7 separate regions of the Homo sapiens genome follow, and regions 1, 2, 3, 5, 6 and 7 are each reported to be linked to region 4. Evidence: microRNA targets listed by miRTarBase, many of them from high-throughput screens and not tested one by one. Region 4 holds a microRNA gene; each other region holds the end of a gene's coding sequence. Distances are between the middles of the regions.
Evidence for each region. The annotated mature microRNA hsa-miR-1827 reads UGAGGCAGUAGAUUGAAU and lies in region 4 at 1,459-1,476, shown strand. An mRNA with a match to its seed (bases 2 to 7 or 8) in the 3' UTR can be bound and repressed. Matches are read on the target gene's strand: a 7mer-m8 pairs with bases 2 to 8, a 7mer-A1 pairs with bases 2 to 7 and ends in A, and an 8mer does both.

Region 1 (4,066 bases), not on the chromosome of region 4:
GCTTTATTGTATAAAAGATTCTATCTGTCTTGTTGCCCACCGAATCCTCAGGCACCAAGTGTAATACCTGGTGTGTCATAAACATCAAATGACTGATGAATGAAAGGAAGAAATGGTTATATAAGGCACTGTGTTTATAATATTTTGTAGGATCAGTTTCTTTTAAATTATAAATATACAGTAGATAAGTTTGCACACATAGCAAAATAACGTCTAATAAGTATTTTATATTGCAAATTGCTTTTAACAGAAATTCATGGCCAAGCAAAGAAAGGAAAAGGAGCAGAATGAGGCTGAAGAAAGAAGCTCTAGGTGATTGGGGGAAAGGAAAGAATTCACTAGAAATTTGTTTAGGGTCCAGTTGATTTGTGTATTTTTGTTATCATTTAATTTGTAATTTTCGTTTCAGAAGCAAATATTCGTGTTGTACAAATTTCTGATTGCCCTAAATGTAGAGAGACTGATGGGGAAAGTATGATGGGTTTGATTTTTATATCAAATCATCAGGCATGGAGAAATATCTTTTAGAAGTGTTAAAATAAATGTTCCTACTGTATATTTAAAATACCATCTGTGTTTGTGGCTGATTTTTTAAAGACTTGCTTGCCTCTGATTGCAGACAAGGTTTTTCACTACAACTCCTGTGATTTGGGATGTTTGGGGATTCTTCATGTATCACTGGAAGTCATAGCATGACAGTGTTTTACTTTGCTTCAACCATTCATGTGTATACAGGTCATAGATTTCTTAAAATTCAAATTTTTTCTGGATAAAATTAGATTACAGCATATTTTCCCCAAATAGGTTTGAATGAAACTTTGCTTGATTTTTATATGTGTTGGAAAGGTATTTTTTCTGCTTCTGGTAACACTTGCTGTTTCTGCCAGAACCCATTTAAGGTAACACCAAGCTAGTCATTTATTATTAGCTTGAATCTACAGAGCAGCCATTACTTCTGTGGACCACCAGAGTAGCTTTTTAAACCATTTGAATTATAGTTGAATATGTTTATAAGAAGTTTTAAGGGCACAAAAAATAATTGAATGGCTAGCAGGTGATGGAAATAGCCCTATACTTTTAAGTTTTTAGATTGAGCCATTCTTCAGACATAGTCTGAATACTTATAATTGTTTTAGTATTTGATGCCTCAAGATAGAGTGCACCAATTAATAATACAAAGAGGATGAATGGAGGGGAACAACAACAACAACAACAAAAACCCTACTTTTTTTAGATGTCTTATTTCCATCACAGCACAAGAGACATCACAGTCAGTAAGAAGGGCTTGGAGAAAAAAAAAGGCAGCACCTCTTTGTCACCTCCTATGAAACTCACTGCATACTTAGTCGAGACTTACCCACAGCCTGAGTAAAATTACAGAATGCTACACGTCACAGACAAGGGGTGGGGTAGAGAGAGGAGCGGCTTGCTGTCAAGAGTTTGTTGGAATTAAAACCTTACAGATGAATCCGGATAATAAGAGGGAGAAGAGCTGTTAAAAGATTGGGGAATAAGGTGCCTGTAAATTACAGAAGCACAGTGATAGTGAATAAGAATCTTAGTTTTAAAGAATCTTCCTTTCTCCTCAGCTTGCTTTTGGAACTTTTGCAACTAGGGAAGTTATAAGCTTCTTTAATCTTGTCTGGATCAGTCTTTTGAAATTGGGATTCTAAATTAGAATGAGAGGAGGAGCTGCTAAAGCATAAAAATGGTAGGGGTGATTTTTGTGTTTTATCCTAGTGACCAATGTTGACCATTAATTGTACATTATAAATAATGTTTTTCTCTGGGACTTTTTGCACTTAATGCTGGTAATTTTTATCATAGGGCTTCAAATACAAAAGATTTGTATGAGGTTTTCAGAAAATAAACATGCTCTTTGCATATAATTTTAGTATTGTTCTTGGCATTTTCAGAAAATCTTCCTCCTTTAGTCACACCACACAAATGGAACGTCATATACATAGTAGTTTCTGCTTATTAGTTGATTGAGGGATATAATTAGGATTGCAGCTGACTTAATTTTTTTTTTTTTTTTTTTTTTTTGAGACTTTGCTCTTGTTGCCCAGGCTGGAGTGCAGTGGCACGATCTTGGCCCACCGCAACCTCCATCTCCTGGGTTCAGGCGATTCTCCTGCCTCAGCCTCCCGAGTAGCTGGGCCTACGGACATGTGCCACCACGCCCGGCTAATTTTGTATTTTTTTTTTTTTAATAGAGACAGGTTTTCTCCTTGTTGGTCAGGCTGGTCTCAAACTCAGCATCTAGACTCCAAGGCAAAAAAAGTTTACATTCAACATGATCTCTATAAAAGTTTTTAGATTTTATTACCCTTTCTGGCATTAGGATGCTGTGGAAACTTGCCTCTCCAAAATTACTCCTTTTTAATCCTTCTTTAAAAAACATTTATAGGGGAGTCAGGTTTTTAAAACTTAAATTTTTAATTTTACTGATTTGTTATTTGATTGTGGAAAATGTCAAGCATATTAAGACAATAGGATAATTACCCTCATACATTAATTAGTTTCAATAATTATCAACTTAAGGCCAGTTGTGTTTGTCTGTGTGTATCTCTACTCCCAACTCTCTTGTATTACTTTAAATATCAGTATGTTTTACCCGTTAATTGTTCATTGTGTATTTCTAAAATATGAGTTCTTTTTAACCCTTATATTAAAAATATCCAGTACCATTAAAAAATCTCTTATTTAAATAATAGTTTGGTTCAGATTTTCAACTGTTTCATAAATCGTTTTTTTGTGGTTGTTGGTTTACTAAGTCTGAATCCAGATTCAAATAAGATCCATATATTGTGACTGGCTGGTAGGTCCTTTAAATTATACTATTTTGAATATATAGGTTCTTCCCTCCCTACTTCCGTCCTTGTAATTTATTTGGTAAAGAAACTAGATTCTTGGCTGTGCCAAGCAGTGCTGCTCAAAATGTCTTGGGACCCAGGGCAGTGCCAGTTCAGAAACTTTAGTATTAGTTTATGATTACTGAAGTACAGAAATTGAGAGTTTCTAGAAACATTTTGACAGTGATTTTATGTTCATTTATTGAATCTAACAATAAAAAAATTGGAGTTTGTATGTTTTTGTGGGGTTTTTAAAAAAAATTTTTTTTTTGTATTTTACAGAATTATTGGTCTATAGTTAATTGAAAATTAGGGAGAAAAAGAAAACTGATCAAGCACATAGTTTGAGAAGCACTGCTGACAGGTTTCCCCAGGTCTGACTTTGTTGCTTGCAACCATGTAGTACCTTTAACGTGTCCCTTGCTCTCTCTGTAGCTCATAAATTGGTAAGTAAATATAGACACTTGATTAGAGTTTGTTTTTTTCTTTCTTTTTTTTGATGAGACTACTTTAGGCAGTGATGTGGTCTTCCCGATAGGAGGCGCAAACTGATTGCCTTCTTTGGGATTTGAGTAGCAGCTGATGCTTAGTTTTGATCCACTTGTTCATTAGGGGTTGCAAAATAATGATATCTTAATTCTATATCCCTTTTTCATGTGTAAGCAGGAATATTTCTCTGCAAGGAGAAACTCCCCCTCATCTGCTATTTGGCTACTAGCGGTACGGTTTGTGTAAGAAAGACACAGATATGGGATGCTTTTCCTTTACTTACCTATTTTTTTCAGAATGAGTTGATTCTTTGGCATCCACTGTGATAAATTTTTTCTTAAGCATTAGTATGAACTTGTAAATTTTAACATATTTGATGTTTGAAACCTCTGCAGTATTAGTGTTATTGATCCTTATATGTCCCACATTTGATTTGATTTCCTCATTTCTACTAGTAGTTATCTGTATGTCAAGATGTTTCAGGCTCACTTCTCCAGACCTGGGGTCAGCTACTTCTCTAAAGAACAGTGGCTGATTAGGTGTGTTCATTGCTTCTGGACTGGTTATTGCTTTCCCATAGATGGAAATTGAAGTGTATGTTTTGTTTTCTAGACCAGGGTTCTCTGTCACCCAGGCTGGAGTGCAGTGGTGCAATCCTGGCTCACTGTAGCCTCAGCCTCCTGAGTTCAAGTGATTCTCGTGCCTCAGTCTCCCAAGTAGCT
Region 2 (4,066 bases), not on the chromosome of region 4:
TTAGATGCTCCTCTGCATTCTCAGCATCTTGTACTTCCCCCATCTTAGCACTTGACACTCATGGTAGCCACAGATATTTGCAGAATGAACACATAAATGAGACATTTCAAGTGGGGACAAGCATGGGGAAATAGACATCTCCCACCTCACCTGTGTCCATTTCCTCTCCTTTCTCTTGCAGCAAGTCAAAACCGTGAGATTTCAGAATTACAGCCCTCCTCCCACCAAACATTACACCTCCCATCCCACCTCCGGAAAGCCTGAACAGCCAGCCACCCTCAAGGCGTCCCAGCCTGAAGCAGCGTCCTTGGGCCCAGAGATGACCGTCCTATTTGCCCACCGAAGTGGCTGCCACTCCGGACAGCAGACAGACCTCCGGAGAAAGTCAGCTCTTGGCAAGGCCACAACCCTGGTGTCCACTGCCTCAGGCACGCAGACCGTGTTTCCCAGCAAATGAACCTACGGGTGGCTTTTCCTAGACCCCAAAGAGGTGAATTGCATTTAAATACAGTCTGCCTCCACTGAGGGCATCCTGCCATTCTTTGGGGACTTGAGCATGGGTCCTTGTTCTTCCTATTTCACCTCCAGGAAAGCAAAAGTGGGAGCAGAAATTCCTGCCCTGGGTGGGAGGATAGATGGCGTGGCCTTCCAAACATACAAACATAATGATTTGATGCCACAAAGCTCGCTTACTCAGACCAAGGAGTGAAAAATTGTCGTGCCCACTTTATGCCCCAGCATGGAGTATGTGGCCTCTTGTCATCCCCGTGTTACTGTGTAGAATTTCTATGGTGTCCTAAAGGGGGCTGCAGCAGGGGTGTGACAACGGTGGGATTGTTGGCGTTGCTTCTTTGACCTTACAATATCCTCAACAAGCATTAGAACAACTTCTGCCATCTTCTGGGGCCTGTACACTGGCCACTAGTAGCTGCCATATCTTTTTCCCTCTGTAAAGTCATAATCCTGGCTGCAAAGGGAGGATTTCTGCGCGGGGTGTGAGGTGGATACTTTGAACATTCTGAGAACCCAATAAAACTAGAAGGAGCCAGCTTCCTGAGTATGCTCCACTTAAGAAGGTCAGAGAGATCACTGAGTACCAAATATCAAAGGATTATCATACTTTAAGCTTCTCGATCCATTTTCCCACATATAATCCTATGCAATAGATAAGCAGAAAGCATGTGGCTGTGGATAGGGCCATGTATGGCATTATGGACAATTAATTCATCCTGGCTCTACAGTCTGACTTCAAGAAAACACAGCGTGCTTACAAACAATCTTATATGGGGTTAGGGTTTAGATATATAGTCTGACTTCAAGAAAGCACAACGTGGGCCAGGTGCAGTGGCTCATGCCTATAATCCTGGCACTTTGGTAGGCCGAGGTGGGCAGACCACTTGAGGTCAGGAGTTTGAGACCAGCCTGGCCAACATGATCAAACCCCATCTCTACTAAAAATACAAAAATTAGCCAGGCATGATGGCGCACACCTGTAATCCCAGCTACTCTTGAGGCCGAGGCATGAAAATAGCTTGAACCCGGGAGGCGGAGATTACAGTGAACCAAGATTGCACCACTGCACTCCAGCCTGGGTGACAGAGTGAGATTCTGTCTAAAAAAAGAAAAAAGAAAAAAAGAAAGCACAACATGCTAAAAAACAACTTTATATGGGGTTGGGGTTAGGATCTATATTTGGATATATATTGTTTGCATTGCAATATTCCTGACTTTCCCTGCTTTCTTCTCACTTGGGGCAGATGAGCTATTTCACTCACAAGGCAACAACACCAGTGCGAACATGGCAGCCCGAGGCTGGGGTGGGAGTGCTTCCTAGGGGAAAGCTGCTATAAAAAGGGTAGGACAAAGAAGGCTGGAGGAGAAAACAGGGGAGAGGAGAAGGAGAAAGAGGAGGGGTTAAAGAAAATGTGGAGGAAAGAAAGTAGGCATAAGAGTAAGAGTGAAAGAGGATTGAGGGAAAGCACAGGAAGAGGCTAAAGGAGACAAGGGGTGGGGCAACCTTACATTCCCTGACAGGGTGAGGAAAGAAGGACAGAGCCTGCGATGAAGAATGGGGCAAAATTAGATGACCCCACTAAGATGGAACTGACGTGAGCAGGACCAGCCAGGGAGAGCCTTGTAATCAGGGTAGAGGAGGCATCCCAGGAAGCCAAGGCAATGCTGTGAGACAACCCATTAATTCTCATTAAACTTAATTGTTGTGATTTAACATTTATTGCATGCCCATCAATGTGGGCACTTTAACGCAGAAATAACATTTGCTACTAAGGCTGGGTGCCATAGAAAGAAAGAAAAAGAAAGGAAGGAGGGAAGGAAGGAAGGGGGAGAGAGAGAGAGAGAGAGAGAGAGAGAGGGAGAGAGAGAGAGGAGAGAGAGAGAGAAAGAAAGAGAGAGAGAGAAAGAGAAAGAAAGAAAGAAAGAAAGAAAGAAAGAAAGAAAGAAAGAAAGAAAGAAAGAAAGAAAGAAAGGAAGGAAGGAAGGAAGGAAGGAAGGAAGGAAGGAAGGAAGGAAGGAAAGGAAGGAAGGAAGGAAGGAAGGAAGGAAGGAAAGAAAGAAAGAAAGAAAGAAAGAAAGAAAGAAAGAAAGAAAGAAAGAAAGAAAGAGAAAGAAAAAGAAAAAGATGCAGGGAGGGAGGGAGGAAGGGGCATGTCTAATTAGACCTTTCCCCTAGATAGTTCTTGAAAGTCCTGGGATTCAAAACATGTATCTTTTACACACCCACTCACACACTCGGCAAACAGAATTGTCCACAGACTTTTTCCAGACCTTAATAAAACAAAACAAAACCATACTCCTCCCATAAAATACTGCCATTGTGTCAGACCTTTGGGGCTGGTAGAGCCAACATGACAGCACGTTGTTCTAGCTATCTCAATCACGTTTGGGTCCACATCTCACAAACTTTGGGTCAATATCTGATGTTTGTGGACCCAAACAAACATGAGATATTGACCCATTAGGTCCACAAAATCAACATGCCCAAATCCATGCCTCATTGAACTAAATATAATAATCCAGATGGAGAAATGAGATAAAGTCCCAAGGACAGGGAGGCATTGTGTGATTTGTCAAAATATAAGTACCTATACCTCATCTTTACCCAAAAAGCACTCTCAATGAGTTTAGCAATGTTTAGCAGTCTACTCTACACTCAGAGTGGCACAGATATGGCATGACTGGCCGACCAAATATTTAGTCTATCCCTCAGTGGCAATGTATCCAGTTAATTTTTAAGTTTTGTGGCTGACAAGCAGGGTGCTTAGATGGAATGGAGATGTCCATGCCTTCCAAATGAAATGAAATATTCTTCTCCCACCATCTATTTATTATCTCTTTGGGATAACCTCTCTGAGAGATGCAAACAACTCCAAGACTTGCCACCTCCACTCCCTCCAGTCTCTTCACCCATGTGCAGCATCAAACTCACCCTCTCCCAAAGAAAATCCCATCTTTGTGGAGTTTTAAGAGGGTTTGAAAGGGACAAAGGATGTTTTTTCCAAGTAAAAGTTGGCTTCACTGGCAGCTTTAACTCATTCATTCCACCAACATGCTTTGTAAATTTATTGTTTTATTTTTTGTAGAGATGAAGTCTCACTGTGTTGCCCAGGCTAGCCTCAAACTCCTCGGCTTGGCCTCCTCATGCCTTGGCATCCCAAGTGCTGGGATTACAGGCGTGAGCCACCACACCCAGCCCCAACATGTTTTTAATATTTACTGTGTGCTAGACACAGCAAGGAAGATGATAAACACATCCCCTCATGTAATTTCCACCATATCCCTATAAGGCAGGTAGATTGTCCCCATTTCAGAGCCAAGGAAACTGAAGCTTGAAAGTTAACCACAGATGATGGCAGAGCAAGGACACAGTCTCAAACTGTCTGACTTCAGAGCCCAACTTGGGACTTGCTCCATGAACCAAAAACCCATCCTTGACTTCAGGATGCTGACTCTGGACTGCCAGGAGGCAGCAGAGTGCATTTTTGGCTGCAAATGCGAAAGAGCCTAGAACGCTCGGCTGCGCACAAATACAGTTCAGGTCTTCATTTAC
Region 3 (4,061 bases), not on the chromosome of region 4:
CAATCCCCTGAATTGAATGAAACAAGAGCATCCTGTTGTCATGTTTGGCCCCGGACTGGAGCCTGCTGTGACGCATCTGTGTACCCCAGTGCACACTGCCCCTTCTCTAACCTGCCTTTCTTTTCCTGCAGGATATTGACGGCCAAGCACTCCTGCTTCTGACCCTTCCGACGGTGCAGGAGTGCATGGAGCTGAAGCTGGGGCCTGCCATCAAGTTATGCCACCAGATCGAGAGAGTCAAAGTGGCTTTCTACGCCCAGTACGCCAACTGAGTCTGCCCTCGGGAGGTGGCCCATTATTGCTGGGATGCGGTGTTGGTAAAGGTTTCCAGGACTGAAACTTTGATTTTCCGGGATATGTTAAATGGTACAGCCACTAAGTATCACCAGAAAACCAGAAGCCCAGGATCTTCTGCCTCCGCCAGCCTGTGAGCTGTTTCCATGTTTTCAAAGCACAGCAGCAGTCGCTTCTGGGGAGTGCCAGTTAAAGTCATGCATCAGACCCTGCCAGACGTGGGCCTGCTTCTTGGCTCACCCACGTTTTGCCTTTCTCCTGCCCCAAATCAGGCAGCTCCCTTGGAGCAGGGTTTCCTCAGATGAGGACTGCATTCTTTGAAAACAAAGAATGTCGCCAAGGAAGAAACCTCACGCCATGCTGTAGTGTTTCCTGTAATCACACGAGCACATTTATATATGCAGTTTCCCATGGATAGGCGTGTGACCCTGGTTGAGTGGCACTTGCGGTTTCATCTTGGTGGCAACTCCTTTGCAATGCAGCTGGCAGCGACATCCTTATAAAAACATGTGCTAAAGCTCTGTCCTCTGTTAGAGGTGCCTTTTAGGAATACGGGGAGTGAAGGAAGGCCGGCAGGCATCTCCATGCAACTAGATGGTTTGTTTGTTTGTTTGTTTGTTTGTTGTTCATTTTGTTGTGTTTTTTGAGACAGGGTCTTGCTCTGTCGCCCAGGTTGTAATGCAGTGGCGCAATCTCAGCTCACTGCAACCTCTCTCTCCCGGGTTCAAGTGATTCTCCTGCCTCAGCCTCCCAAGTAGCTGGGATTACAGGCACCCACCACCATGCCTGGCTAATTTTTGTATTTTTGGTAGAGACAGGGTTTCACCATGTTGGTCAGGCTAGTCTTGAACTCCCAACCTCAAGTGATCTGCCCGCCTCGGCCTCCCAACGTGCTGGGATTACAGGTGTGAGCCACTACGCCCCGGCCCAACTGGATGGTTTTTGATTGAAGCCTAGAACATCTGTAGAGACAAACTCTACCCAGTCTTTTCTAGACCCTCAACTATCTCCAGTGTTGTTGTTTAATCGTAGCCGGATCAGGGAGTGAGTCTTTTAGGCAAATGTTGGATTATATATCAAAGGAAAAGCTTAGTTTCAGAGAGGAGGAAGGGAAAGAGATGTGAGGGAAGCATTTCATCAACCAGCTACGTCCCCCTTAGAAGGATCACTGCAGCAGGTCACCGAGCAGGAGTCCCTCTGAGCGTCCCTTCTGTCTCGTTCTGCCCTAGCTGGCAGCATATGAACCAGGCATGATGCAGCAGGAGCAGTGAATCTGGAGTCAGCCACTTGGCACCCTGGTTTCGCTGAGAACAAACTCTGAGATCTTGGGTGACTTCTCATCACTCTGGACCTCCATTCCTGTGAAGTGACAGGTGTGGACCCTGAGGGTGCGGTGGTGAGCACACTGTCTCCTGCTGGCATTCACCCCACTCATGCTGGAAAGGAAGATCCAGATCGTACAAAAATTAGAAAAAGAAAGAATAAGAAGGGTCTGGTCCCAGTTCTGACTCGGCCATTCTTACAGCTCTTTCTGGCTTTGAGTTTGCTTGTGGAATTTCCTGGGCAGTTGTGTTAAATCCGCCAGGTCACGTGCAGACAAAGCTGTGGCTGCGAGAGTTGGCTGGCCTCTTGGACCAGAAGCCATCTCCATATCCTCATGAGCGATTCCATATCTCCACTCAGACCCTGTGGACTACAGTGTTCCGCTGTGGTGGCTGCCAAGATGCCTTCTTAAACTTATGCAAGGAAACCAAACCCTCCCACAGTTCCCAAGCAGACACTGGAAGCAGAGGCTTCTCACCCTTCCTGCTTTTTCACCACAATCACCTTGAGCTCGTCCCTTGGACTAGAGTCTCCACAGTTCCAGTAAAATTCTGCGGTGGGCTGATGAGCTGCTTGCATTTCTGTGACATTTCCAGATATGATTCTCAGTGGGATTTTGGAAACTTTGATTGCTCAAGCTCACCCTTCTTAACATTCTGTAATGGTTACAGATGAGAATGGAAAACACATATTTTATGGATGAGGCGTTTTGGTCTCCCCTGCAGTCGATTTCTAGAATCAAGTTTTAGAGTTCGGCTGATGCATCTGCCTGGGGACCTCAGATGGGAGGAGTGTGTCAGTTGTACCCCGACAGAAATGTCTCTGGGATCTGTGGCTGGCTTGCCCCGGGCATCTCTCCTTTAAGCTCAAGTTTTGAACTCTCTGCGGTTTTCCACCCCTGCCTTCTCAGCCACATGCTTTTGGCCTTAAACGCTCAGTCTTGTGGAGTTCAACTCTGTCAAACGATTGGAAAGGGCATCCATTTCCAGATCTTTGGCATTTTCCCCGCGCTGACTCTTTGATGATCCTTCACTGTGGCCTTTTCAAGCTCAGCTGTTCCTGTTGTATTTGAGACGAGGGTGAGGGAATGTGGTGGCCACAAAAGAACAGGGACTTGCAGCACAAATGTCACTTCTGTCTCCCTTTTCAGTGGTAGCACGGAGGAGGAGGTGCTGCGTTGGAGGGAGGGGATCCTCCAGGAGCTCTCTGGAGCCCATCTAGGAAGCTAGAGTGTGTGGCCCGCCAGGAGCTCAGGAAGGATACAGCCACTGTCGCAGGGGAAAGTGTTTGCTTCCCGTGGAGCCAAGCGCCCAAGACTCTCCGTATCCTTCACCCTGACAGTTTAACTTCAGCGTTTCTCTGTGCAGTTGCGGTCACCATGGGTGAGCACTGTCTGTGCACGTGCCAGGGAGGAGATGGCTGGGACCACTGCACAGGAGGGCGCAGCCTGGCGTCGCCATGAAAGTTGTCTCTGTGCCATCTCTCCGGTCCTTGAGGAGAGCCCAGAAAGATTTTAGGACCCAGGAGGTGCTTTTCCTCCAGCTGTTGCCAGTGTCCTTCTGAGCCTGGATTCTCCGGGGATTTCCGTCGTGGTGGATGGACTTCACATCAGCAGCAGTTCTGGTACAGAATTGTAATGTGTTTTCATTTCTCTGTAGGATTCACCTCTCACCAGCGTCTGTCTTAAAGGTAGGGCCAATTTCATGGAGCATTTTTCTGTGTGTGTCCTTGTTGCTTTTGCCAGAAAAAGTGGATTTGACATGCGTGCCCCGATGCCACCATAGCCCCTAGGCCAACAATGTCATGGTCTAAACACCAAAAAGTGATGCCCCGCATTCCTTCCCTGGATGGTACCGTTTCTTCTCCGTCTCTCTTTGATGATTCTTTGGGACCAAAGTCCTCTCCTTAGTGCGCCTACTTCCTGTGGGCATCATGCCACTTGGAACTTATTGGAACTGGCCCGGGAGACTCTGCAGTCTGCGCCGTTTGAAAACCCTGAGAAAGAGATGCCACCTCAACTTGAATCATGACAGCCCATCGCTCAGTCTCACCCTAAACTCATGGAGCTTGTTTCAGCTCCTCACTTCTTGACTGTATTTGTACTATGTTGAAAAAATATCCTGTCCACAAAGACATAAGCCTAACAACCTAGAAAAACAACAGGGTACTACTGGCATTACAGAACTTCTTTGCCTTTCAAAACAAAAGCAAAACACAGTGAACTTCACCACGGAGCTGCACAGCGTGGGGAACTCATCCATCACTTTCAAAATTAGAGTCATTTGATCCAAGTTGGAGTCAGACACAGTATTTGAGCTGCACGGCTTCTGGGTTCTCCCACCTTATTTGATCATATTCGAAAGATTATTTCCTGTGTTTGCTTTGATTTGTTCCTCAGTACATTAAAATGATCCACACCTTGAACACTGCCCTCTCTAGAAGGT
Region 4 (4,066 bases):
CAGCTGCACAGCCAGGCAGTCCTGCAGAATGGGCTTCTCTAAACTTGAGTGGTGACCCACTGTGGGCCAGGATATCAAATTAAGAAGATAAGAAGTCAATTTTGAGGGGACAAGCATTTTTTTTAGTATTAAAAGAGAAAATAGTACTTAGCTTTACTATATGTAGCAGTGACATTTTTCTTTCAGTTTTATGTACATACTGACAGTATACATTTACATACAAAGGTGTATTATCTGCTGTCGGTTCCCAGTCAAAAAAGTGAACAACACTGTGTCCGAAGGTAACATCCTTCCCAGTGTCCAGAATTGGTTCCTTCTGGTGGGTTCTTAGTCTCGCCAACTTCAAGAATGAAGCTGCAGACCTTTGCGGTGAGTGTTGCAGCTCTTAAAGGTGGCACGGACCCAAAGAGTGAGCAGCAGTAAGATTTATGATGAAGAGCGAAAGAACAAAGGTTCCACAGCATGGAAGGGGACCCGAGCAGGTTGCCGCTGCTGGGTGGGGTGGCCAGCTTTTATTCCCTCATTTGTCCCTGCCCACATCCTGCTCATTGGTCCATTTTACAGAGCGCTGATTGGTCCATTTTACAGAGTGCTGATTGATCCATTTTACAGAGTACTGATTGGTGTGTTTACAATCCTTTAGCTGGACACAGAGCACTGATTGGTGCGTTTTTACAGAGTGCTGATTGGTGCATTTACAATCCTTTAGCTAGACACAGCGCTGACTGGTGTGTTTACAATCCTCTAGCTAGACAGAAAAGTTCTCCAAGTCCCCACTCGACCCAGGAAGTCCAGCTGGCTTCACCTCCCACCAGGAGGCCAAACAAAAAGGACAGTGCTGAGAGGAACCATCGTCCTGCTAGGGAAGGGAGTGTGGCACAAAGGCAGGTGGGTGTGGGCAGACCCCCCCTGCCACGGGTGTGCAGGGCAGAGGATGATGAGCCCCAAGCAGCAGGAGCAGGAGCAGTAGAGCAACTCTGCCCCTGAAAGGGTCTGGAGCCTTCCCTCATCACTCTTCCTCAAGTCGATGCTGGACACCCACTATGTACCAGGCCGTGTGAGGCACTGGGGTAAACCAGAGACAAGACAGACAGGGTCCCTGCCCCATGGAGCTCCCAGCCTTGCAAGGGAGCTAGACCACAGATGAGTACACAAAGAAATACAGTAACTACAGGCAGTGGTAAGGGCTGTGAAGGAGAAGCACGGCAGTGAGGAATGGGAGGAACAGGGAAGGCTTCTCTGAAGAACGAACAGAAGTAACCAGAGAAGAGACAGCCCGCCCTGCAAAGGGACAGCCTGAGGCAGGGCCTGTCGGGAAGACAATACATCTGAAGAACTGCAAGAAGTCAAGTGGGCCTGCAACAGAGGAAATGACAGGAGTCAGACCCCATGGGACCCTGAAGGCCATGTTCAGCAGCACAGCCTTCAGCCTAAAGCAATGAGAAGCCTCTGAAAGGCTGAGGCAGTAGATTGAATTGATTCAGGTCCCTTAGAATTGGGTCCCTGCAACAGGTGGACCCAGGACCGGCAGAGAATGCAGATAGGCGCCCCTCCTCAGCCCCCAACTCTAAATATAACAGAAGACATGGCTCAGTTGCTCCCTTGGTGGCCCTGGACAAGACAGGCTGAAGTTCTCTGAGCCTCCGCTTCCCATGCTGAGTCATGGTGAAAGGTCTCTGAGTCTACAGGCCAAAGCCACTGCTCCTCTCATGACTGCAGTGATTTCCATGGACAGTGTTATGCAACGGCGGCCCTTCTGATACGTGGGGCCCTGGGAGCGTGTGAACTGATCGAGACCAAGAGGACTGATGGGACACAACTGCTAAGCACAACCTCATGCTCCTGGGAGCTATCAAAGAAGACCAGGCACCAATGCAGCAACACACACACACAGCCCAGCCAACTTCCCGCAACTGCTGAAACTCCACGGGCCCAAAAGCAAGTCGCCTTCCTTCCTGCTTCCTTCTCTAGAAGGTCTGGCTTTAAAAATGTCACTGTGAGGCAGCAGCATGGTGACTACATGCCTTGTCTTTCTTGGCAGACAGAGCCATGCCTTCCAACGAGGAAAATTACAAATACCACGTTATGGCTCCTGGACAGGAACAACTTCTCCCAATTCACCAAACATCTGTGTGCCTGCTTTGAGCTGGTTTGCGCCCTCTGCTGCAAACAGGGGCTGAAGAGACGAGTCACTGTCACGACTTTAGAGTCCTAGACACTAAAACCATAATAGATTCTTGGGAACCCCCGCCGTGCTCACAGATAACTCTTTCTACCAGGCCTGAGTGGGTCAAGAATGAAGCAAAAACTAAGAGTCAGAGCAGGGCCAACTGCAGGGCCCGCAGAAGACCTGTGGGAGGGAGGCCTGGAAGGAAGAGCACACCTTCCCGGCCAGCTCAGCCCTCACAACTGCCCTTGAGAAAGGCACCCTGTCCACTCCACCCAAGGGAGTGGAGACACACTTCACCTACTGGCTCAAAAGAGTCAGAGGGGCAACAGTGGCAGCAATGCCAGCAGGCCTGGGGTGTGTAGCCACCATTTACAGAGCACTTACAATCAGTCAGGCAGTGTGCTAGGCATTTCTTATTTGTAACCTTAACAACACTCTCACTGATCCAGAGAGGGAGAGGTTTACACACACACACACACACACACACACACACACACACACACACACTCCAAGAGGATATGAGGGCTTAAAGCTTGGGTTAGGCAATAAGCATCTGGCATCCTCTAAGCATGAAAGGCACAGTAGTGAACTATACTGACAAAATCTCCTCCTAGGAGGTGATGCTCTAGTAGGACACAACAGCAGATGCTCAAAGACTAGATCAGGGAGCAAAACCATCCTGAATCTCTAGCCGACTGAGGGCCCCCTGTGCTGGCTGGTGAGCTACTGCCTACTGGACAATCATGAAAGCCACAGTCTCCCTAGGGATCCTCTCAGCTCCTTGCCCCTCAGATGGTCTCACACAACCGAGTGCTCAGGATGTTTACTGAACTGAGCACTTTAGGCAGAGTATTTCACAGAACACTAGTTAGAAGCCACTAATTAGTCACGACTACCTAGTTTACCATTTCCACAATACATTCATTCTGTGAAAGTAAACGAAACCCAGCTGAGGGCTAGCCTGATACGATATAGGTAAACACCCAATCAAATATCATTAAGACCCCACTACATAAATACCAGAACTGAAAATTGCTAATGAAAATGCCCTTCCCTCTCCCAGTCTGAGATACAATGGCAGGGTCCTTTTCTTTCTTTAGAGGAAGGGGTTGTTACTGTCTATATTTTGTTCTGACTGGAGGTGGGAAGTCTGCACCCCAGTGCCTCAAAGGTAAAAGCGTCTGACCAAGGACACCTGTCTACCCTCATCAGATGCCTCAGTGAGGTGGGAGCTGGTACACCTCCACCCCGAATGCATCTGACCCCTCCTTTCATTTCTCAAGAAATTGTTATCTCCATGGTGGAAGGAAACTGGCAATGTGCATACAAGCAAAGCAAGTGCAGCAGGAGAGAAGTCAATGCTAAGGGCCATTAGGAATCCTTCAGGAAAGGAAGTCCACCGGGGTGGGGCTGGCCCCAGCCACACATACCTGCCAAAGTGAGCTTCATCCATCACAGCACCCCCAACTCAGAAACAATTAAGAAGCAACTGCTCCAAATAGGTTCAGCTTTGCATTTATCTACTTTTAAATGTTTGCCAGTACATAACATATAAATACTTCAACCCTTCATACACAAACAAGATAATCCTCCAACCTAGTTAAATAAAAATACTAGGCATGACTAAACCATCATCAGTGCCACGGTCTGAATGTCTGTGTCCCCACAAAATTCCTATGTTGAGACCTAGTCCCCAAGATAATAGTAGTAAGAGTGAAGCCTTGTGGGAAGTGATTAAGTCATGAGGGCAGACCCCTCTGGAATGAGATCAGGGTCCTTATAGAAGAGGCCAGAGTGGTAAAAGGGATTTCAGGAGAAAAATACACTTAGCTAGGTAGCTAGATACATACATACATATATATGTATACATACATGGATATATACACACATATATAT
Region 5 (4,066 bases), 31 Mb from region 4:
TAAAAATTTCTTTTTTTTTTTCTTTTTTTGAGACAGAGTTTCACTCTCGTCACCCAGGCTGGTGTGCAATGGCGCAGTCTCGGCTCACTGCAACCTCCGACTCCCTGGTTCAAGTGATTCTCCTGTCTCAGCCTCCCGAGTAGCTGGAATTACAGGCGCCCGCCACCATGCCCAGCTAATTTTTGTATTTTTAGTAGAGACAGTGTTTCGCCATGTTGGCCAGGCTGGTCTCAAACTCCTGACCTCAGGTGATCCACCCGCCTTGGCCTCTCAAAGTGCTGGGATTATAGGCGTAAGCCACTGCGCCCAGCCTACAGTTACGAATTTCTAAATGGCACAAATAAACTCAGCTGTTCTCAGTGCAGACGTCAAATCCTCACTGTGCTGAAACATTTTCCTCAGCTTTTGGGAAATAATTACAATTTAAACATACACAGAGAATGTTTCTTAGACAAACATAATACCCGAGGCTTATCTGGTAAAAACTAATTGCTCTGTCCTTAGCACAAAAAATATATATCTTTGTAAAATGAGAAGAACCAAAGAATATTTAAAACAAAGAAGGAAGCCACACGTACTAATTACACAAGAGACTGACTGACAAACTGGAATTCTCCAAAACAGATTTTCAGCGAGGCTTCTCATTTCAGAGTCCAGGAAAAAAAAATCCTAAAAACCCCAAAGGTATATTATATGTGTGTATATATATTTTTATTGTGTTAAAAAACACAAAACATAAAATTTACTGTCTTATCAAAAGGTATATTTTGTCGCTCTTCCCTTTTTTTTTTTTTTTTTTTCCCGAGACAGAGTCCAGTCTGTCGCCCAGGCTGAAGTGCAGTGGCATGATCTCGGCTCACTGCAACCTGCATCTTCTGGGCTCAAGCAATCCTCCCACCTCAGCCTCCTGAGTAGATGGAGCTACAGGCACGTGCCACTAGGCCCGGCTAATTTTTGTATTTTTTGCAGACAGGGTTTTGCCATGTTGCCCGGGCTGGTCTTTGTTCTCCTAAGAGTTGTTTTCTCCATGAAAGTTGATAAATAACATTTAGAAAATGAATTATTACAAGAGTAATGATATGTCTCAATTTATTATATGAAATTATCAACAACTGCTTTTAATATTCAGATGTCAAGAAGATGAAAAGCAGAAATACATTTTGCAAACATGTAGCACTCCATAAATGGAAATCATGTATTTCCTCTAATATCCCAATTTTTCTATATTGGGATCTTATATGGCTGTTTCTATATGGCTATTTTGTCCCAACTTGCTGTACAAGAATTTTCCCCAGCCACCTTAGAAAGGTTGGATGTAGTTCACTCCAAGTTTGCAGTTCACTCCAAGTGTTTCAGTACCACAGAAAGCTCCATGGAAGCCTCAAATGTACGGGCTAGGCAATAGAAGCAGGGAGGTAGGATTAAGAAATTACTGGCCAGGTGTGGTGGCTCAGGCCTGTAATCCCAGCACTTCGAGAGGCTGAGGCAGACAGATGGCTTGAGCTCAAGAGTTTGAGATCAGCCTGAGCAACATGGCAAAACTCTGTCTCTACAAAAAATATAAAAATCAGCCAGGTATGTTGGTGTGCACCTGTAGTCCCAGCTACTGGGGAGGTTGAGGCAGGAGGATTGCTTGAGCCCAGGAGGCTGAGGCTGCAGTGAGCCATGATTGTGCCACTGCATTCCAGCCTGGTCGACTGTAAGACAAAAAATAAGAAAATAAAAAATTTACCAATATAAAATGCTCAAACAGCTAACAAACATGTTCAATTCCATTTATAGTCTTTTCTTTGAGCCATTTAAACATAGGGCTATTTTTTTTTTTTTTTTTTGAGATGGAGTTTCACTCTTGTTGCCCAGGCTGGAGAGCAATGGCATGATCTCGGCTCACCACAACCTCTGCCTCCTGGGTTCAAGCGATTCTCCTGCCTCAGCCTCCCGAGCAGCTGGGATTACAGGCATGTGCCACCATGCCTGGCTAATTTTGTATTTTTAGTAGAGACGGGATTCCTCCATGTTGGTCAGACTGGTCTTGAACTCCCAACCTCAGGTGATCTGCCTGCCTCAACCTTCCAAAGTGCTGGGATTACAGGTGTGAGCCACTGAGATTGGCTGCCGTTTTGTTTTTTAACTCCATATAGTTTCTATAGTTCACTGAAAACTCAAAGAGATGACCTATAAATGTATGAATAATGTATGATTTCTTACATCAATTTTCTACTAGAAAAAAATCATACTTTTAGAATTGGATTTTGTCTTACAGTCATCTTTATTATACTTTATAAATGAGATTTCATTTATATAAATCAGGAAGCTAAACTAAAATAGAAACACTAGATTTAAATTCTGATTTGAATACTCTGATCAAAATAACAAATCTCACACTGGGAAACCATCTATCAGCAAGCAGAGAGCTACTGTGTGTCCTTCCTTAGAAGAGTTTGAACACCGAGAACCCACAGCATATTTGCAGTACAGTAACAGCAATTCCTTTGTCATTATCACAGAACTTTAATTTTCATATACTTTGCTGGGACCAACCAAACCATCCCATATATATAACCATATCCATATATATATATATATATATCCCACATATATATGGGATGGTATATATATACACATGTATATGTATGTGTGTGTGTATATATGTGTATATATGTATACACACACACACACACACATATATATATATATACACACACACACATATATATATGGAGAGAGAGAGAGAGACAGTGTCTTGCTCTGTCGCCCAGGCTGGAGTGCAGTGGTACGATCTTGGCTCATTGCAACCTCCGCCTCCCAGGCTCAAGCGATTCTCATGTCTCAGTCTCCCAAGTAGCTGGGATTACAGGTGTGCACCACCACACCAGGCTAACCATTCCATACATTTTATACAATCATTTTTAAAAAGAAGCATGAACCATTTCGGTTTTAGAGAATTAAGTTTTTTTAAAAAAGAGACTCTTAAAAAAAAGTCATTATATGAATAAAATCTGCTTTGTGTTAATTCCGACAAATCATTCCATCATTGAGTCTGTCACCAATTTTTTTTTTTTGAAATGGAGTTTCGCTCTTGTTGCCCAGGCTGGAGTGCAATGGTACGATCTCGGCTCACTGCAACCGCCGCCTCCCGGGTTCAAGTGATTCTCCTGCCTCAGCCTCCCGAGTAGCTGGGATTACAGGCATGCGCCACCACGCCTGGCTAATTTTGTATTATTAGTTGAGACAGGGTTTCTCCATGTTGGTCAGGCTGGTCTCGAACTCCTGACCTCAAGTGATCCGCTGGCCTTGGCCTCCCAAAGTGCTGGGATTACAGGCGTGAGCCACCGTGCCTGGCCCAATTTTTTTTTTTTAATAACTTGCACACTTAACAATATTTTTTATCTTCTTGGGACAACATTCTTTTCTCCACAAAAACCCAATTAAGGACGTTGTGCCAGTTTACTCCTACTTCCTTCCTGTTCACTGAGCTTAAAGTGGGTATAGGCGAGAATGCCAAATAATGTACATAAAATGCCAAGGGCCTGATTAATGGACAGTGGATCCTTAAATAAAACATATCCTCCGAATAAAGTAATGCAGAACTTGAAGTGTCCGAACATGTTATAGCTGAGGTTTTTGGATAAGGATAAAAAGGAATAACAAGATAGATGTTAATATTTACACACACACTCGCACTGCATAAAACAACCCAAAAGCAGCCCATCAGATGTAAAGAACAATGGGACCAGGCGTGGTGGATCATGCCTGTAATCCCAGCACTTTGGGAAGCTGAGGTGGTGGATCACTTGAGGCTGGGAATTTGAGACCAGCCTGGCCATCATGGTGAAACCTTGTCTCTACAAAAAATACAAAAATTAGCTGGGCGTGGTGGCACATGCCTTCAATCCCAGCTACTTGGGAGCCTGAGGCATGAGAATCACTTAAACCCAGGAGGTGGAGGTTGCAGTGAGCCAAGAATGCACAACTGCACTCTAGTCCAGGCGACAGAACAAGACTGTCTAAAAAAAGAGAATAATGGGAACTTCTTAGTTTCTTCAGGTAGGTTTTAGCGATTGAT
Region 6 (4,066 bases), not on the chromosome of region 4:
TCATGACATGCCTCTGCCCAAAGTCCTCCCCAGGCTCTTCCTCCCTCTCCATGTGATGCCCAGGGCCTGCCCGTCCTCCCCCTACCTCTCCTGGCCTCCTCCGTTGCTGGGACGCTCGTTCTCTTCCCTGCCTCAGGGGCTGTACTTTGCGCCCCAGCCATCCCCACTCGGCTCAGGTCCCAGCTCATTGCCACCTCCTCAGAGGTCTCCCCTGATCACCCTGGCCGGATGAGCTTCCCCCACCCACTTCATGGTCTTGTTCATTCTCCAACCTGTGTCATAACTTCCTTGAGGATCCTAAGTCTGTCCCGTGTCCTATTCCTGGCCCTCAGTAGGCACTCAAGGGTTGTTGAATGAATGAATGAACAAGCAGCCCTTCTGTTAGCCTTGTCTGCCCCTCCCAGCAGGGAATAACAGTCCCCACCCCTGCCCACAGGAGGCATGATCAGCTTTGACGTCTTCCCCGAGGGCTGGGACAAGCGCTACTGCCTGGATAGCCTGGACCAGGACAGCTTCGACACCATCCACTTCTTTGGGAACGAGACTAGCCCTGTGAGTGTGGCCCACCCCAGGTTTCCCCTAACGCAGTGGACAGTGAGAAGCCAGGTCTGGTGGCTTCTCCAATGCAAATCACCTGAGGTCAAGGCCAGAACATGGGGCAACACAACAGACCTCTTAGGGGGCTCCTGGAGAACAACCATTGCTCACCAGCCCCGTTACACAGATTGGAAAGCTGGGGCCCCAAGAGGCTGGGCACTTGTTCTACATCACACAGCAAGTCAGGGCAGGTCTGACAAGGGGTGAGAAGGTGGGCTTCCTGGCAGTTCTGAAGGGGCAGGAGGAGGGGCAGGTCCGTAGCAGCCAATGTGGAGAGGGACTCCACCTAAATATCCCTCCTCTGCCCATCCTCTGTGTGCAGGGTGGGAACGACTTTGAGATCTTTGCCGACCCCCGGACTGTTGGCCACAGCGTGGTGTCTCCTCAGGACACGGTGCAGCGATGCCGGGAGATTTTCTTCCCAGAGACAGCTCATGAGGCGTGACCGGGGCCCACATCTGTGTGTCGTGACTTCTGAAGAGTTTGGCCTAGGCCTAAAGAGAGGTCCTGGTGTTGGATAGATGCCAGGGCCCCTCCTCTGGCCCAGGACGCCTGCTGCAAGCCCACCCAGATGGGGCCAGAGTCTGTGTGGACAACCGTCCCCAGCCAGTCTGCTCCTAGTGGCACTGGCTTCGTCCTCCCAGGGCCCAGAGTGTTCCCCATGCTCCACCTGGTGGCCCAGGCCACAGCTGCTGCTTGTATTTCGGTACAGAAGAGGTTTCTTTCTGCACCAGGAGGAGGCGTGCTCAAGTATCGGTACGAGATCTAGCCTGCCCTGCCTGCCTGCCCTGGGCGATGAGGTACGGTGGGGAAGGTGCCTATTTTAGAGAACTTTGTCACAGTATTAAAGTTCCCAGAACAAAGTAGGTGTCAGCTGTGTCTGAATGGATAATTGGCCCCAGTCACATGCTGTCACAGCCACTACTTTGCCGACAAGTAAACAGCACAGAGAGGGCAGGGACTTGGCCCAGGTCACAAAGGAAGTCTGATGCAGTCGAGGAGGGGGCCATTGAATCCCCAAAGAAGAGCTGGTTTGGTGTGTCCACCCCCAGCCCCTTCCTTGGGGACCCTGACACAGAGGCAGCTTCAGGCCACGGTGGGTCACAGTTGAGGGTTTATTGCCAGTGTTAGGAAGAATGGGGGGTCTGGGTGGCCAGGGGTCTTGGGAGGAATTCCAAATGAGCACTGCAGGGCCTGTGAGTGGGGAGGAGAGCTGCTGCCCCCCTGCCACCCAGGAGGCCCCAGGGCTGATGCCACCATATCCTGACTGCTAGTGGTGCCTTAAAAGGTGGCCTCCCCACAGGAGGGGAGCCTTGGGGGCCCCCAGGAGTCAGCCCTCACCAACAAGCCCTCTCTCAAGGGGGCCAGGGGCCTTTATTCCTCATGGGACAGGCTGGGCCGTGCCCATTTTAGGGGAGCTGACCACACCTCAGCAGCTCTGGGCTCCCAGATTTTATGTGGTGGGCCCTGGGGCCGGGGGTGGGATGCAGGCATCCCGGCTGATTTCTACCCTGCGGTCTTGGGGCACCTACAAGGCAAGGGATCCTCCTAGACAGTCACTGATCCCCTCATCCTGGGCATTTGAGCCCCCAGTTTTACTCACAGACTGAGTCTCATAAGGGTCCCACCCCTGGCCAGCCCTCCCTCGAACCACGGCCCCACTTCTCCCCGGTCAGGCGATGTGCTCTCTAGAAGGGAGGGTGGTAGGCAGGGGGTGCACCCAGAGGTGGAGGCAGACAGGGCCCTCCTTCCTGGCCTCCTGGGCCAGGCCACCCTCACCCCTGCCTGGGAGTGAATGGCCACGACCCCGGGTGCACACACATCTTGGCCCCAAAAGGACTCCAGGTGACAGCAACAGCCACACATCTTCAGGGATGGATGCAATAAGAGCCACACCTCGGCCACTGGTCTGTTAGGGCTTTGGGAAGAGAGTTTGACGTGGAGGCCGCAGGGCCAGTCTCCCAGGCTGGGGGCCCTCCTCGTGGGTGCCCCGGACGTGTGTCCGTCCCTCGCGGCATCCACAGCAGCCGTCAGCCGGGCATGGCCCAGAGCATCAGTGGGGCTTGTGAGTCAGGGTAAAGGAGGTCTGCAGCCAAGCTGGAGAGATGGACCCCCACCCTCTGCAAACCCCTGGGCTCGGCTCAGTACAGCCCAGGGGAAGGAGCCCAGCGCCACTGCCAGGCTGAGGAGGAGGGACTGGCCGGCGAAATGGGAGCCCCAAACCCCTTCCGCCCTCAGGCCCCTCTTCCTGCCTCTCCATGGCACTGAGAGAGCAGAGCAGGAAGGAAGGCTGGCCTCGGCAGTGAGAGGCCTGTGTGCCTCCGTGTCAGTCCTCCTCCCCTGCCAGAGGCTGAGAGGCTCCCCAAAAGCACCCATCGGCCAGGCTTCTGAGGGAAGGGTCCAGGCTGTGGCGGGGGACCTCAGCCAAGGGAGGGAGATGTAAGTAGCACAGAGAGCCTGGCTCCGGGCCAGGGACTGACACGGGACAGCTCAGGGGCGGAGGCCAGGGAGTGAGCCCAGCGCAGGCTCTCGCAGCTCAGTCACCGTGGGGACGGGTAAGCAGGAGGGCGAGCGGGTCCTGCGTGTCTGCGGCAGGGAGGGGAGGAGAGAGGCAGTGGACAGCGCGAAGCCAGGTCTGGTGGCCTTGCCCTCCACCTACCTCCTGGCCAGCTTGCACAGTAGTCACGGGTCGTGGGGTGGGTGGAGGCACACGCTCATAGCCACAAGCACAGACGGACAGACAGACGTGCACACTGAGGCCACCGAAGGACTCATCAGCCAGGGCAGTGGGGCATGGAGCCGGCTGCTGCCCGTTCACCCTGTGTGGCTCCCCAACCCCCGGCCAGCTGGCCTGTGAACCACTCAGCCTAGGAGCCCACGACCTGGCCAGACCACGTCTCGTGGGGAGTGTGGGGGGCCAGCTGAGTGAGCACCACCTCCACGGCCTGGAACTTCTGGTTCTTGGGAGGGATAGGGCACATCTTGTAGGTCACCTCGTCGCCCTCCACTGGCACGTACTCCCCCTCGATGCTGGCGGGCAGGAAGAGGGGTATTAGCCCAGCAGCAGGCCCTGTGCCCCAGACAATCCTGTGGCCTGGCCTTGGGGGCAGCCTGGCCCTAAGCCTCCCTAGGCCAGGAGGCCTGGCCAGGCCTTGCTTCTCAGAACCTCAGCTCTCGAATCTGTAAAACGGGACTCATGGCTGGGCACAGTGGCTCACGCCTGTAATCCCAGCACTTTGGGAGTCTGAGGCGGGCGGATCACCTGAGTCAGGAGTTTGACACCAACCTGGCCAACATGGCGAAACCCTGGCTCTACTAAAAGTACAAAAATTAGCCAGGCATGGTGGCTGGCACCTGTAATTCCAGCTACTTGGGAGGCTGAGGTGGGAGAATCGCTTGAACCCAGGAAGTGGAGGTTGCACTGAGCCGAGATTGTGCCATTGCACTCCAGCCTGGGCGACAGAGCGAG
Region 7 (4,066 bases), not on the chromosome of region 4:
GAGTGACAGAGCGAGACTCCGTCTCAAAAAAAAAAAAAAAATCTTCAAATGGAACCCACCTACACCCAAGTTTTCTTTTTTACTTTATTTCTTATTTACTTAATCACATGGTCTTTCCTCTCCTGTGAGAATTAAAGTTGCCAGAAGTTGGTGGGGAAGAAGTCCTGCAGGAGGAAATGTTTGTAAATGTATAATTAATCATGTGTCTTTTTCGTTGTAGGAGAAGATTTACAAATCTCTGCCTGGATGCTGTTTGTGGTTACCTTGTTGAGCTCCAGTCTATGAGCTCGTCAGTAGCAGTACAAGCCATCACTGGGAATTTTAAATCTCTTCAAGCTAAATTAGAACGGCTTCATTAATTACTGTGATATACTTTCATCCGTTTTATGATCTGTAAAATAAAAACTCAGCTGGGTCCAGATATCAGGTGTTCTAAATCTAAGAATGTAAGAACAATCTTAATAGAAATATGTTTTTAATAAGTGGCTAATATCTACAAATAGTACCTTTGCTAAATGAATTCTTTTTTATGACTATTTTGTTTTTTAGTAATTGGGTGAAAAAACAACTGAAATGAGATTATTTATTATTTTAACATAAGGATTAAAAAAATTTAGAAACTCTTATTTTGAATTGTACTGCAGGCAGAAATTTCGAATTTATATTATTCATTTTCAAGTTAGTCCAAGGATATTGGCATTAAAACTCCACTAGGCGGCCAGGCACAGTGACTTACACCTGTAATCCCAGCACTTTGGGAGGCCAAGGTGGGCGAATCACGAGGCCAAGAGTTTGAGACCAACCTGGCCAACATGGTGAAACCCCATCTCTACTAAAAATACAAAAAAAAATAGCCAGGCGTGGTGGCGGGCGCCTGTAATCCCAGCTACTCGGGAGGCTGAGGGAGGCGAATCACTTGAACCCGGGAGGCAGAGGTTTCAGTGAGTCAAAATCGCACCATTGCACTCCAGCCCAGGCAACAGGGCGAGACTCTGTCTCAAAAAACAAAAAAACCTCAAATAGGCTAAGCAGATCCATTCCCATAATAGTGGATTCTAAAACCGTCCTTAAATAGGCAAATAACTGACTTTTTCAAAACTTTTTTTAGGTGTTGGGTTCACCCTTGAAAGAACTGTCCTCTAACAACTGGTTTTGTCAGTTAAAGCCCTTGAGAATTGACATAGCTATATACCTGGTTGAGCAGGTGATAAAACTTGTAACTAATGTTGTGTCCTGAAAACCTACACAGGGAGGTACTGTTTTCCCTTAGTGTCTACCTGGCTGCTTGGCCTTGTGACTACTGATTCCATTAGAGCAGTGGTTCTCAAAGTATGTGCTCCAAACCAGAAGCATCAGCATCAGCATCAGCATCACCTAGGAATTTGTTAGAAATGCAAATTCTCGAGCCCCAACCCAGACCTACTGAATCAAAAACGTGGGGGATGAGGCCCTGCTTTCTATGTTTTAACAAGCTCTCCAGGAGATTTTGGTGCATGTCAAATTTGAAAGCCACTGCAGTAAAGGATACTGCTACCTTCCATAGTTTATGGACTGAGCTACCTATCTGGCTCCTCCTCTGTGAATAACCACACACACAAATTTTGCCCAAGGCACACAATATATAAAGCAAAACTGTTAGTAATGTACTTTTTAATTATTCCTTAACAAAATAGAATAACCAAACCAAATGCTTCAAAGTAATAGCAACAAGAGAGAAGAAGAGTGGGAATGACCAGAGCTAACAAAACACTCTATTCCTTTCTCTCTTTTTTTTTTTTTTGGAGACAGAATCTCACCCTGTAGCCCAGCCTGGAGTGCAGTGGTGCGATCCCGGCTCACTGCAACCTCTGCCTCACAGGTTTGAAGCAATTTGCCTGCCTCAGCCTCTCGAGTAGCTGGGATTGCAGGTGTGCGCCACCATACCCAGCTAATTTTTGTATTTTTAGTAGAGATGGGTTTCACCATGTTGGCCAGGCTGGTCTTGAACTCCTGACCTCAAGTGATCTGCCCGCCTCCACCTCCCAAAGTGTTGAGATTACAGACGTGAGCCAATGTGCCTGGCCTATTCCCTTCTCTCTTTATGCTACCACAAATAATTACCTTCTGTTTATTGTAAGTGATGCATGTCTAACAATTTGTACAATACATTTTGAATATATTTTTCCTTCCATTATTGTCTTTTCCCAAGACCATAGGGTTGCCTTCTCTACATTTGTTCTCTTAGAATTCAGCTCCCTTTTCCCTATAATCTTCTAATGTAGAATATTTAATAGAATGCCAGAACGTCACTCAGTGGGTACTACTACCTCTTATTTTTCAACTTTTCAGTTTCTTAAGTTTAGCGTTTTTTGAATATGTAAAGTGAATGTATGCGATACATTAATTCGTTTTATAAATTTAAAATTCTGTCATGTCTACTTAAAAGGAAGGCCTTGTCTGAATGTTGTAATTTAGGTGTGACTCCAGTTCTGCTAGAGATAAGAACTTCATTTTTGTTTTAAGCACATTTACATACTAGCAATATGTTGTTATATATACTCAGCTCACAACATTGAAAGTACATGTTTTAAAAGGGCTGTAGGCTTCCATGGTTAGATGGTCTGTTAGAGTCAGAAATCTGAACACTGTCCTTTTATTCACACAGCATGCTTTGAGAGGTTTTAGGAATTCCAGCCCCACAACAGATGCTTGCAATACCTTTTGGGGGGTAAGATTCCTAAGAGAGAAGAAATTAGGTCCCCTCATTTTTACCCTTGGAACAGTGTTTCTAAAACTTTCACATTCAGAACAATCAGCCGGATAGCCTGTTATGACAGATTCTTGAGTTCCATCTGTAGTGTCATGCTGATCCTGGCAGTCAGTGGATCAGAGTTGGAGTAGCATTTATCCACTGTATTAGTATACTTTGTACTTGGTGTTTGTTCAACGCATTACTTTTTTGAATTTTTTTGTTTTTTGAAGACAAGGGCTTGCCCTGGAGTGCAGTGGCATGATCTTGGCTCACTGCAGCCTCGAGCTCCTGGGCTCAACTCAGTCTTCCCACCTCATCCTCTTAAATAGCTGGGACTACAGGCACGTGCTGCTACACCCTGCTATTGTCTGTTTGTTTGTTTGAGACTGAGTTTTGCTCTTGTTGCCCAGGCTGGAGTGCAATGGCACAATCTTGGCTCACCACAGCCTTTTTTATGAGACTGAGTTTTGCTCTTGTTGCCCAGGCTGGAGTGCAATGGCACGATCTTGGCTCACCACAACCTCCACTTCCTGGGTTCAAGCAATTCTTCTGCCTCAGCCTCCCGAGTAGCTGAGATTACAGGCATGCGCCACCATGCCTGGCTAATTTTTTTTTTTTGTATTTTTAGTAGAGATGGGGTTTCACCGTGTTGGTCAGGCTGGTCTTGAACTCCTGACCTCAGGTGATCCACCCCCCTTGGCCTCCCAAAGAGCTGGGATTACAGGCATGAGCCACTGCGCCTAGCCCCACCCCCCCTACTTTTTTTTTTTTTTTTTTTTTAATTTTTTGTGTAGCCAAAAGATCTCACTCTGTTGCCCAGACTGCTCTCAAAACTCCTGGCCTTAAGTGATTCCCCTGCCTCAGTCTCCCAAAGTGCTGGGATTATAGGCATGAGCCACCATGCCTGTCCATTATTTCTTTATAGTGACTATTATATGTAGGCAATGTATAATTGGTAGAACATAGTCTATGAAACAGTGCGTTAATTGTGGGCAGTGAAGAATCATTGAAGTTGTGAAATTTGTATTTTAACTAGATCATTGTAGTATGGCAAAACGGTTAGGAAAGAGAAAGCTATCTTGACTAACTGTTTATGCTATGAGATACTGACTGATGTACATGTACATTTAGTGTTTCTTTAGGTATACCTGACTTATTCATTGAACACCTATCCACTGATCTCAAAAGTATTCCTCAGGGTAGTCTCCATTCCTGTCATTTTTCCTCCTATTCATGAGACGGAAAAATTATGACCATGGTACAGAGTTGTATCAAGGAAATGAAGAACTAGAACATTGAATTGAAAGGTTTTGAAAGGGTTCACAATTTCTTTTC

Region 1: miRTarBase lists ZNF638 as a target of hsa-miR-1827. The part of its 3' UTR that is shown has no 7-base or 8-base seed match.
Region 2: the mRNA of SH3RF2 is a reported target of hsa-miR-1827. Seed matches in the 3' UTR shown: 7mer-m8 at 513-519.
Region 3: the mRNA of SFMBT2 is a reported target of hsa-miR-1827. Seed matches in the 3' UTR shown: 7mer-m8 at 412-418 and 8mer at 1,032-1,039.
Region 5: miRTarBase lists SLC35E3 as a target of hsa-miR-1827. Seed matches in the 3' UTR shown: 8mer at 1,617-1,624 and 8mer at 1,482-1,489.
Region 6: miRTarBase lists CSDC2 as a target of hsa-miR-1827. Seed matches in the 3' UTR shown: 7mer-m8 at 3,206-3,212 and 7mer-m8 at 2,327-2,333.
Region 7: the mRNA of NUP155 is a reported target of hsa-miR-1827. Seed matches in the 3' UTR shown: 8mer at 1,848-1,855, 8mer at 1,875-1,882, 8mer at 3,281-3,288 and 8mer at 3,587-3,594.

The regions. Positions count from the first base shown.
Region 1 is chr2:71,434,492-71,438,557 of GRCh38, forward strand. It overlaps ZNF638 (zinc finger protein 638), which reads left to right. Exons shown (of 28, transcript NM_014497.5): 28 at 251-570. The coding sequence ends at 316. Among named protein-coding and RNA genes, the nearest start is that of DYSF, 30 kb to the right of the region's middle.
Region 2 is chr5:146,062,245-146,066,310 of GRCh38, forward strand. It overlaps SH3RF2 (SH3 domain containing ring finger 2), which reads left to right. Exons shown (of 10, transcript NM_152550.4): 10 at 182-1,048. The coding sequence ends at 457. The region is part of intron 1 of LOC107986458 (a long non-coding RNA gene); the gene reads right to left. Among named protein-coding and RNA genes, the nearest start is that of PLAC8L1, 41 kb to the right of the region's middle.
Region 3 is chr10:7,159,981-7,164,041 of GRCh38, reverse strand. SFMBT2 (Scm like with four mbt domains 2) reads left to right here. Exons shown (of 21, transcript NM_001387889.1): 21 at 132-4,061. The coding sequence ends at 272. Among named protein-coding and RNA genes, the nearest start is that of SNORD129, 25 kb to the left of the region's middle.
Region 4 is chr12:100,188,474-100,192,539 of GRCh38, forward strand. It overlaps MIR1827 (microRNA 1827), which reads left to right and starts at 1,411; the gene lies at 1,411-1,476.
Region 5 is chr12:68,764,253-68,768,318 of GRCh38, reverse strand. SLC35E3 (solute carrier family 35 member E3) reads right to left here. Exons shown (of 5, transcript NM_018656.5): 5 at 1-3,615. The coding sequence ends at 3,429. Among named protein-coding and RNA genes, the nearest start is that of SLC35E3, 20 kb to the right of the region's middle.
Region 6 is chr22:41,574,294-41,578,359 of GRCh38, reverse strand. It overlaps CSDC2 (cold shock domain containing C2), which reads right to left. Exons shown (of 4, transcript NM_014460.4): 4 at 1,694-3,627. The coding sequence ends at 3,465. It overlaps PMM1 (phosphomannomutase 1), which reads left to right. Exons shown (of 8, transcript NM_002676.3): 7 at 437-552; 8 at 920-1,460. The coding sequence ends at 1,042. Among named protein-coding and RNA genes, the nearest start is that of PMM1, 14 kb to the left of the region's middle.
Region 7 is chr5:37,288,193-37,292,258 of GRCh38, reverse strand. It overlaps NUP155 (nucleoporin 155), which reads left to right. Exons shown (of 35, transcript NM_153485.3): 35 at 221-4,066. The coding sequence ends at 359. Among named protein-coding and RNA genes, the nearest start is that of CPLANE1, 41 kb to the right of the region's middle.